Linked DNA regions of Homo sapiens: region 1 is linked to region 2. The links come from fine-mapping of genetic effects on gene expression. Tissue or cell type: whole blood. Region 2 holds a variant in brackets; the other region holds the start of a gene. All regions are shown on one strand. Distances are from middle to middle.

Evidence for each region. PIP is the estimated chance that this variant, and not a neighbour inherited with it, causes the effect.
Region 1: it holds the start of TNRC6A, and the variant in region 2 is fine-mapped to the expression of TNRC6A in whole blood (INTERVAL, PIP 0.90).

What each region holds. Positions count from the first base shown.
Region 1 is chr16:24,726,578-24,731,727 of GRCh38, reverse strand. It overlaps TNRC6A (trinucleotide repeat containing adaptor 6A), which reads right to left and starts at 2,077. Exons shown (of 25, transcript NM_014494.4): 1 at 1,882-2,077; 2 at 1,428-1,475. The coding sequence starts at 1,886. RefSeq lists a silencer at 1,739-2,048.
Region 2 is chr16:24,678,849-24,683,998 of GRCh38, reverse strand. It overlaps a transcript of TNRC6A not described here. Among named protein-coding and RNA genes, the nearest start is that of LINC01567, 10 kb to the right of the region's middle. RefSeq lists an enhancer at 1-245. The variant T/C (reference allele first, on the strand shown) is at 2,272.

The sequences.
Region 1 (5,150 bases), 48 kb before region 2:
TTAAGTACTAGAGCACCTTCATAGGAATTATACTGATATAGTTACCTGATAAAACAAAAATGGAAGGAGAAACAGACCTCTAAGCTCTGTTCTGCTGATATTACACCTTAATGGCTCAACCTGTTTTCTTTAATGGTTTCATATCTTAACATTTCCTTACTAGATTTTGACAAAATTTATGTAAATATACCACAAATAGTCAGTGATGTCAGACTTAATTTCCTTTAAATGATCCCATAATTATTTTGAGTAACAGAGAATCCCTTACTGGGTAAACCAATGATGCCTATCCTTCACCATCTGAACACATTCTTTAACGATCACCTGAACAGATTAGTATCTTATGAAACTCAATAGGCCAGCAATTTGGAACAATTCTACGCGGTGCAAAATATTCAGACGATTTGAAATGTGAGTGTTAAAAACCCCAATGTAAACCTAAAACCCGCAATCATCAAGAGCAAACTACATTAAAACCTGAGATAGGAGAAATTTCATTTTATTTTCAACAAGTGAAAAAAAAGAAAAAAAGAAAGCTATTCACGGATTTGGTTAATTGGCTAAGTTTCCCTGAGTGTCCCAATATGATGCAAAAGAAAAAGGGGAATAAGAAAGGAAAAGACGGTAGGAAAGAAAATGAATGTGAAAAGGAGTTAAATACAGTACAATTCCTTGATGCTTAAGCAATTACAGCTCAATGAAGCTAAATATTTCCATTCCATAAAGACATCGTTTAAAAAAAAAAAAAAATTCTCCCTTCACGGTGATGCAAAAGCAGCAGGGCCCAACAGGAACGATAACCTCTTCTGGAGAAAAGATTTTTAATTATTTTACCAGCTGATAAAAAGAGCACACACCGAACATGGACAGAAATGGAGTTTCGAAGGAAAACAAAACGCAGCTTATGCTTGGTAAAGTTCAAGGACAAAACTGTGTCCAATGCAACAGAATCCGCCTGACTACAATGTATGGGGGGGGGGGGGGGGCGGGGGGGAATGCGAACACATAGTATCTTTTTATAAAAGCAACAATTTGAGCTACAAAGTAATAACGGGGAAGCCAAAACAGTTTGACAGCCCGCCATAAGGGCCGCCTCAATCATGAGTCACACAATGCCTGCAACCATTTACAATAGTAATTAATGCACAAGTCCCCTAATTAAATTCTAAAAGGGTGAGAATGCTTTAACTAAGTTTACAAGAATTGCTTTGCGCTTTTTTTTTTTTTTTTTAAAGAAAGAAACACACGCGTAATTACGCATCTCCCCGCAATCCCTCCAGTATTCCCCCAGGCCGCTTCTCCCGAATGTCTGCTCTCCGGGTGCGGAAGAAAATGTCACGGGGGAACTTCTCAACCCAGAAAAGGCGAATCGGAGTAGAAATATACGATTATCGTGGGGCGGGAGACGGAAAGCTCGCCCATCTTACCTGCTAAGATTTCTTTCTACGTCTTTGGTAGCTTTAGCTTCCAATTCTCTGAAACAAAAAAACAAAAACAAAAACAAAACAAAAACACACACACAAAAACGAGATGCGCGTGAAAACGGAGCTGCTGCGGCAGAGGCTCGCGCCGGGGCCGGATGGGGGAGGGGAGAGGACGGGGGGAGGGGGACTCACAAAGCTGCGGGGCTGCAGCCCGGACTGCGGTCCCGCGGCGCGGGCGAGGCGCAACCCCGGCCTGGCCCCCGCGGCGCGGCGCAGCGAGGCTCCCCCGGGCCGCCCGCTCGGCCTCCGCAGCAACGCAGCCTGCGCCCTCCCGCCGAGGCCCGAAGTCTCGGGGACGCCCGGCGCCGCCGCCTCTGCTGCCGCCGCCGCGGGTTGCGGGCCCTGCGGCAGCGCCCGCGGCTCCTCCCGCCCGGAGGGAGGCCCTTGTTCCGCTCACCTCATGTGTGTAAAGTGCACGAGCAAGTGGGGCGCGGCGAAGGAGGCTCGCGAGCCTCAAGCCCTCCGCAGCGCCGCGGGGAGAGGCCCGAGCCGCTGCACCAGCGCCATTTTCTACACCGACCCGCTGCCGCCGCCGCCGCCGCCGCCGCCGCCGCCGCCGACACCGCCGCCGCCGCAGGCCCCAGACCGGAAGTGAATGCCCCACTCGGCAACCCCTTCCGGGGGCGCCACGGCCACTGGCCCCCAAGATGGAGGCCCTAGCAACTGGACCCGCAGATTGGGCAGGTCCTTGGCAACCGCCCCGGCGTGTCACGCTGCACCCAGCCGGACCTCCCTGGAGGTCACAGCCTCCGAGGCGCCCCGCGGAGTGGCTGGGGGGGCCTGCGGAGTCCCGAGTCCAACCTTTTTCGGTGCGGCCGGCTCCGGTCTGACCGAGGAGGGGAGTCCCTCCCCTCCTCCTCCTTCTTTGCTGCGACACAAGTTTCCTACCCGCCGCCCGGCCCCTCCCCCACTGACACACGCCAAAAAAAAAAAAAAAAAAAATTGCCTAAAACGCAAATTTTACCCCAACTGCAGCCTGATGAGCCCGCGCGGCTTTTGAATTCAGCCACTTCTAATTATTTTTGACCTTGGGCCAGTTATTTAACCTCTCTGCTTCTCTGTTCCTCCTCAGGTAAAGAATGCATACCTGAGGCGGGTTGTGAGGCTTAAAAGCGATTTTTATCCACCGACCTTTGACTCAGCAGTTCCGCCTGCACGGATTTTCTGCTCAGGAAATAATTCTGGGTATCTGCAAATATTTCACCTTCGAGATACTAAGCTGTGGTATTGATGATGGTGAAAAATTGCAAACAGCCAAAATGTCCAGCGCTACTAGATGGCTTCAAAAACAGCTACTGGCATGTATTAGGACACTGTAAAAATGATGTGGAGGAATAATCCCGGCATGGAGGAAATGGTTGCAATAGAATAAATGAAAAAGCAGGTTCCAACGTAGCTCACACAGTAAGAAACATCTTAGTGTAGACACAGTAAGATACATACATGTAGATAGACTAAGATATGTATATATGTAGACACAGATGCATATGTGTACATTAAAAGTATACATACATACCTACATGTAGATACAATAAGACATACATATCTGCAGGTAGATACAACAATACACATACATGTAGATACAGTAAGATACATATTTTCACTTGCGTGTGTTCTTTCCAACCTCTCATCAAGCTTTTTCTTCTAATTTAAAGATAATTCCTCCTCTGTGCTTAAAATCTATAACCTTTACTTTCTCAGAAACCCCACTCTGTGGATCATCCCATTCTCCTTTTTCTAACCTAAGTTCTTCAACTGGCTTTTTTTTTTATTTTTTTATTATATTATCATTTTTTTTAGGCGGAGTCTCGCTCTGTCTCCCAGGCTGGAGTGCAGTGGCGCGATCTCCGTTCACCGCAACCTCCGCCTCCCGAGTTCAAGCAATTCTCCTGCCTTAGCCTCCCAAGTAGCTGGGATTACAGACACGCACCACTGCGCCTAGCTATTTTTGTATTTTTAGTAATGACGGGGTTTCGTCATGTTGGCCAGGCTGGTCTTGAACTCCTGACCTCAGGTGATCGCCCCCCTCGGCCTCCCAAGGTGTTGGGATTACAGGCGTGAGCCACCGCGCCCAGCTTCAACTGGCTTTACAACATGCTTGAATCTCTCCCGTTAAAAACAAACAAAACTTCCCTAGACATGTTGGGTTCCTGTCCTCTCCGATAGGTTAAGCTAGTGAATGAATGCACAGAAAGTCATGAAACATATGCACCAAAACGTTAACTGATTATGACTTTTTTTCATTTTCTTCTTTTAGTGTATCTGTTTTTTTCTTTTTTGCGATGAGCATATAAAAAACACTTTTTTGAAAAAAAAAATCAGGTTTACAAAATATAAAATGTAGTGGGCACCGAATAAATGCTAGTGACTTTCCTTTTCCTGCTATCATCCCTGAGGTTCATTTACCTACACACATATTTGTTTTTCTTTCATAATCCTTTCTACTTAAAATGTTTAAAAGTTACTATGGTGTTTCATTAGGAGTTTAAAAATATGAACATATACGTAATGGCACAATATGCTTTCATACCAGGTTTAGGAATAATTTTTCACAACAACATAAGGCAATGAAAACAGTCATATTTATCAACATTTGCACAGCTGTTAAGATTGGCTGATTTTTTTTTTATTAGACTTTTTTAGGTTTTAATGACTCAGTGATTCTTAATTGGGACAATGTTGCCCCCATCCCTACCCCTGGGGACATTTAGCAATGAACTTTTTGGTTGTCACACTGGATGCTACTGATTGGTATCTGATAGCTACAGACCAGGGATTCTACTAAATATTCTACGATGCGTAGGACAGTCCCCTACAACACGGGAGTATCTGAACCAAAATGCCAATAGCACCAAGGTTGAGAAAGCCTGGAACTAATTCCCAGCTCCAGCAAAGCTAATAAGATATGATTTCTTGGCCAGGCGCGGTGGCTCATGCCTGTAATCCCAGCACTTTGGGAGGCCGAAGTGGGCAGATCATCTGAGGTCAGGAGTTTGAGACCAGCCTGGCCAGCATGAGGAAACCCGGCCTGTAGTAAAAATAAAAAATTAGCCAGGCATAGTGGTGCATGCCTGTAATCCCAGCTAATTGGGAGGCTGAGGCAGGAGAATCGCTTGAACCCAGGAGGCAGAGGTTGCAGTGAGCTGAGATCACACCATTGCACTCCAGCCTGGGCAACAACAGTGAAACTCCACCTTAGGGAAAAAAAAAAAAAAAAAGATGTGATTTCCAGAAGGTTTGTTGACAGTGATTGGACATCCCATCTGAGCCCTCCTGGGCTGCAATGTAGAGTGTTTTATATGAGGTCATGCTAGTCACTTTTAAATTATCTCTTACTTAAACTTGGTGCATACATCGAAGAAAAATGACAATATAAGATCAGCACTGATTCCTTATGTGGGACCCTCTAAGGGATCTTTTCCTGTTACTATCTTTTCTTTTTACTAAGTAATCATTCTCTCTACTGAATATTTCCCATCACCACACAAACTCTAGTAACTTTCATTAAAAAGCAAAAAGCCCAAAACTCCCTTGATGCGTCATTCCTCTCCAGCTCCATTTTTCTGCTCTCGTTCCCAACAATGCTTTCTTGGGAAACTGTTCAACACAAGCACCTTCCACTGGCTCTCCTCCTTCTCCCAGCTCTCTTTAACCTGATATCCCCAT
Region 2 (5,150 bases):
ACTATTTACTACTACTCTGTTAAGAAGCTCACTGAGGCTTGGACAAGACACTCCTGGCTTTAGGGTGCAGAGTCTAATTAGGGAGAGCTCACACATCAGTACCTTTGAAGGGGAAGAGAGACTGGGAAGCAACAGTTCACTGTGAGTTAGTGTCGATGCCTATAATACCTTTATACCTGCTAGGGCTCACTAGGTGCAGGGCACTCTCCTTATTTTACCTCATTAAGTCCTGAGGCCTGTGGTTGTCCTTACTTTACAGATGAGGAAACTGAGGACAGCGAGAAGAGCTAAGGAAATTGCCCAAGGTTGCACAGCTAGTCGGTGGCAGAAACAGGACTTGAACTCGGGCAGTTTACCTCCAGAATCTGGGCTGTTAGCACGGCACTCTACCACCTCCCATGGGGAAGAGGGTGGCTGATGTTGGTGATGAACACAGCTGTGGCTTGTCTGCTGAGCCTTGCCTGAGCTACCATCTCACATGTCATAAAAACTGCAGGATAGGGGCTGGGCACGGTGGCTCATGCCTGTAATCCAAGCACTTTGGGAGGCCAAGTGGGAGGATCGCTTGAGCACAGGTGTTTAAAACCAGCCTGGGCAACATAGCAAGACTCCGTCTCTACAAAATAATTTAAAAAATTGCTGGGCATGGTGGTGTATGCCTGTAGTCCCACCTACTTGGGAGGCTGAGGTGGGAGGATTGCTTGAGCCCAGGAGGTTGAGGCTGAAGTAAACTATGATTGTGCCACTGCACTCCAGTGAGTGATAGAGTGAGAACTTGTCTCAAAAACAACAATAGTAACAACAACAAAAAAACACCAAAACCCAAAAAACTGCAGGAGAGCCTTTTCCTGCCACTAGAGCTGTTTTGGGGGCTTCCAGTATCTGATAAGAGTTTGTGCTCGTCATGGGGTCTCCTTGCTCTCAGTTCCAAGCTTCATAGCACATATGAGCCCAGGGCATTGGAGCCTCCAAAACTAGCTGGTGACCTTGGACAAGTTAATGAATCTCTCTGAGCCTCAGTTTTCCATTAGAATGTAAACAACTATCTTGAAGGATTATTGTGAGGGTTAAATTCAATGATGCATTTATCGAACACTTGGTGTACGCCTTGTGTCTTGGGAGGCTAAGTGTATACACTGTTCGATGGGCTCCCTTGTCTTCTGGCTTCCCATTGGTTTTGACCAATAGGGAGCCCCAGAAGATGATTGAGGAAGGGAGGAGACGGGGCTTGGGGCATTTATTCTCTGGCTGCTTCTCTGCGGTCATTCTGCGTGCTGGCTGCCTTAAAGTCACATTTCCCACCTCGGTGGCCCTCTCTCTATAGGCTTCTCAGTCTCTAGGGTACAGTGGTCATTCTTCCCCTTGGCCTTTCAGGCATAGGGGTGGTAACAGAAGCCAGCCTAATTAGTCCTGTGGATCCTTGCGGTTTTCTGCCCTCCGTTTGTAGAGTTCCTCTATTCAATCTTCCTTCAGCTGCGTGTGGTAGCTCATGCCTGTCATCCCAGCACTTAGGGAGGCCGAGGCAGGCAGACCGCTTGAGTCCAGGAGTTTGAGACCAGCCTGGACCATATGGCAAAACCCCATCTCTACTGAAAAAAAAAAAAAAAAAGCTGGGCGTGGTGGTGCACGCCTGTAGTCCCAGCTACTTGGGAGGCGAGGTGAGAGTATCGCTTGACCTTGAGAGGTTGAGGCTGCGGTGAGCTGAGATCACACCACTGCACTCCAGCCTGAGCAACAGAGCAAGACCCTGCCTTTAAAAAAAAAAAAATCAAACAAGTCCTCCTTTCATGACCTAATTTGAACATGTCTTCTCTTTCCTTCCCTTGACTGATGCATTCTTTGTTTACATTAATTACTCAAGTAGATCTGGTAGACTGTGTGCATTCTGCCCAGTTTCACAAAATAGCCACTCTCCAATTCCCCCGTACAACATTTACAGACAGTTGACTATCCTATCACAACTTACATCAGAGATGAATGATACTTATACTGGCGAGGCCGTGGGGAACAGAGGTGCTTTCATCGACAGATGGGCGGGAATATAATATAGTACAAGCTAAATACAGAGGAGTTTGGCAACACGTTGCAACATTTTAAAATATGCATCCCTTTTGACTCAGCAGTTTCATCTTTAGGAATTTATCTCAAGGAAATAATTATGGTAGTGTGAAAATAGTAATGTACTGGGGTACAATCAAACCAGTTGTCTATCAGTAGTTGACTAATTAATTAATTCCCATTTGTTGGGTGCCTATTAAGCATCAAGCACTG[T/C]TCTAGCCCCTAAGGATAGAGCAGCAAATAAATCTGAAAAAGCCCTGTTTTCATGGAGCTTATATTTTAACAGTTGGACTAATTACAACACATGTATACAATGGAATGACATGCAACTAGGCAGAAAAAATTAGTAGCTCACTATGAATGATTATGAAAATATGTCCACAATATATTACTAATAGAAAAAAAACAGGTTAGGTCAGGTGCGATGGCTCACGCCTGCAATCCTAGCATTCTGGGAGGCTGAGGCAGGCGGATCACTTGAGGTCAGGAGTTTGAGACTAGCCTGGCCAACATGGGAAAACCCTGTCTCTACTAAAAATACAAAAATTAGCTGGGCATGGTGGCGCATGCCTGTAATCCCAGCTACCCGGGAGGCTGAGGCAGGAGAATCACTTGAATCCAGGAGGTGTAGGCTGCAGTGAGCCGAGATCACGCCACTGCTCTCCAGCCTGGGCAACAAAGCAAGACTCGGTCTCAAACAAACAAACAAAAAACACCAAGTTAAAAAATGGTAAATAAAATAGGATCCTTTTTATCTATTAGATTTAGAAAAAAGGTATGGAAGAATATAAAACAAATTGTTAATAATTATTAATTGGAGAGATGGGGCTAACATGGACTTTTACTTTCTGTTTGATATGGTTCTGAGTTATTTTGGTTTTATTATAAAAAGCTTTACTGTCTAAGCACTTTGGGAGGCTGAGGCAGGAAGATTGTTTGAGCCCAGAAGTTTGAGATCAGCCTGGGCAATACAGTGAGACCTAGTCTCTCAAAAAAAAAATTTTTTTTTTTTAATTAGCCGAGTGTGGTTGTGCACGCCTGTAGTCTCAGCTACTCGGGAGGCTGAGGAGGATTGCTTGAGCATGGAAGGCAGAGGTTGGTTGCAGTGAGCTGAAATCGTGCCATTGCAGTCCAGCATGGGTGACAGAGCAAGACCCTGTCAAAAAACAAACAAACAAACAAAAAAACGCTTCCTAATAAATAATAGTTCCTTTTTTTTTTTTTTTTGATGGAGTCTTGCTCTGTTGCCCAGGCTGGAGTGCAGTGGCAGGATACTGGCTCACCACAACCTCTGCCTCCAGGTTCAAGTGATTCTTCCGCCTCAGCCTCCCAAGTATCTGGGACTACAGGTGCGTGCCACCACACCCAGCTAATTTTTGTATTTTTAGTAGAGATGAGGTTTCACTATGTTGGTGAGGCTGGTCTTGAACTCTGACCTCATGATCTGCCTGCCTCGACCTCCCAAACTGTTGGGATTACAGGTGTGAGCCACCGCACCGGGCCTCCTTTTTTTTTTTTAAGAGACAGTGTCTGACTCTGTCACCCAGGCTAGAGTACAGTGGTGTGATCATGGCTCACCATAGCCTGGACCTCTCAGAGTCAAGCAATCCTCCCTCCTCAGCCTCCAGAGTAGCTAGGACTACAGGCACATGCTACCATGCCCAGATACTTTTTTTTTTTCTGCATAAAGACAGGGTCTTGCTATGTTGCCCAGGCTGGTCTTGGATAAGTCATCCTCCCGCCTTCAGCCTCCCAAAGTGCTAGGGTAACAGGAAAGAACCACTGTACCTGGCCAAATATATTCTTCATATAAAATTTTTAAAAACTGTGGACAAAAGCTAATTCCTTCTTAAGCACCCCCAGGAAATCACTAGCTATCAGGTGATATGTTTACCTCCAGATTTATTTAAATGCATTTATATACATTTATGTGTAGCTACAGAAGACATGTAATGTGTTAAGTTGTATTTTATTTTACATGGATGATATCCTGGAGTGAATATTGTTCTGAATCTTGTTTAAAGATCCAGTGGGCCAGGTACAGTGGCTCACACCTGTAATCTCAGCACTTTGGGAGGCTGAAGCGGGAGGATTGCTTGAGTACAGGAGTTTAAGACCAGCCTGGGCAACATAGTGAGACCTTGTCTCTAAAAAAAAATAAAATTGCCAGGTGGGGTGGCTCACGCCTGTAATCCTAGCACTTTGGGAGGCCGAGGCGGGTGGATTGCCTGAGCTCAGGAGTTCGAGACCAGCCTGGGCAACGTGGTAAAACCTTGTCTCTATTAAAATACAAAAAATTAGCCAGATGTGGCAGCGTGTGCCTGTAGTCCCAGCTACTTGGGAGGCTGAGGCTGGAGAATTGCTAGAACTCAGGAGGCAGAGGTTGCAGTGAGCTGAGATCACACCACTGCACTCCAGCCTGGGCGACAGAGCAAGACTCCGTCTTTGAAAAAAAACAAAAAAAACAAAATTAGTCAGGTATGGTGGTATGTGCCTGTAGTCTCAGCTATTTAGTAGGCTCAGGTGGGAAGATCGCTTGAGCCCTGGACGTCGAGGCTGCCTTGAGCCAAGATTGTGCCACTACATTCCAGCCTGGGCAACAGAGAGAGACCCTGTCTCAAGAGAAAAAAAAATTCAATGTCTTGGCCGGGCGCAGTGGCTCAGCCTGTAATCCCAGCACTTTGGGAGGCCAAGGTGGGTGGATCACCTGAGGTTGGGAGTTTGAGACCAGCCTGACTAACATGGAGAAACCCCGTCTCTATTAAAAATACAAAATTAGCTAGGCGTGGTGGCGCTTGCCTGTAATCCCAGCTACTCGGGAGGCTGAGGCAGGAGAATTGCTTCAATCTGGGAGGCGGAGGTTGCGGTGAGCGGAGATTGTGCCATTGCACTCCAGCCTGGGCAACAAGAGCGAAACTCTATATCCAAAAAAAAAAAAAAAAAAAATTCAATGTTTTAAAGGTCTTTTCATATTAGTACTTTTAGATTGACTTAGTCTCTCTCTGAACCACTAGTGTGTATATACAAGTTAATTCGGGTCATTAGAGGGTTTAGAGTTCACAGTTTGAAATGGAGCCTGGGTCATGTATTAG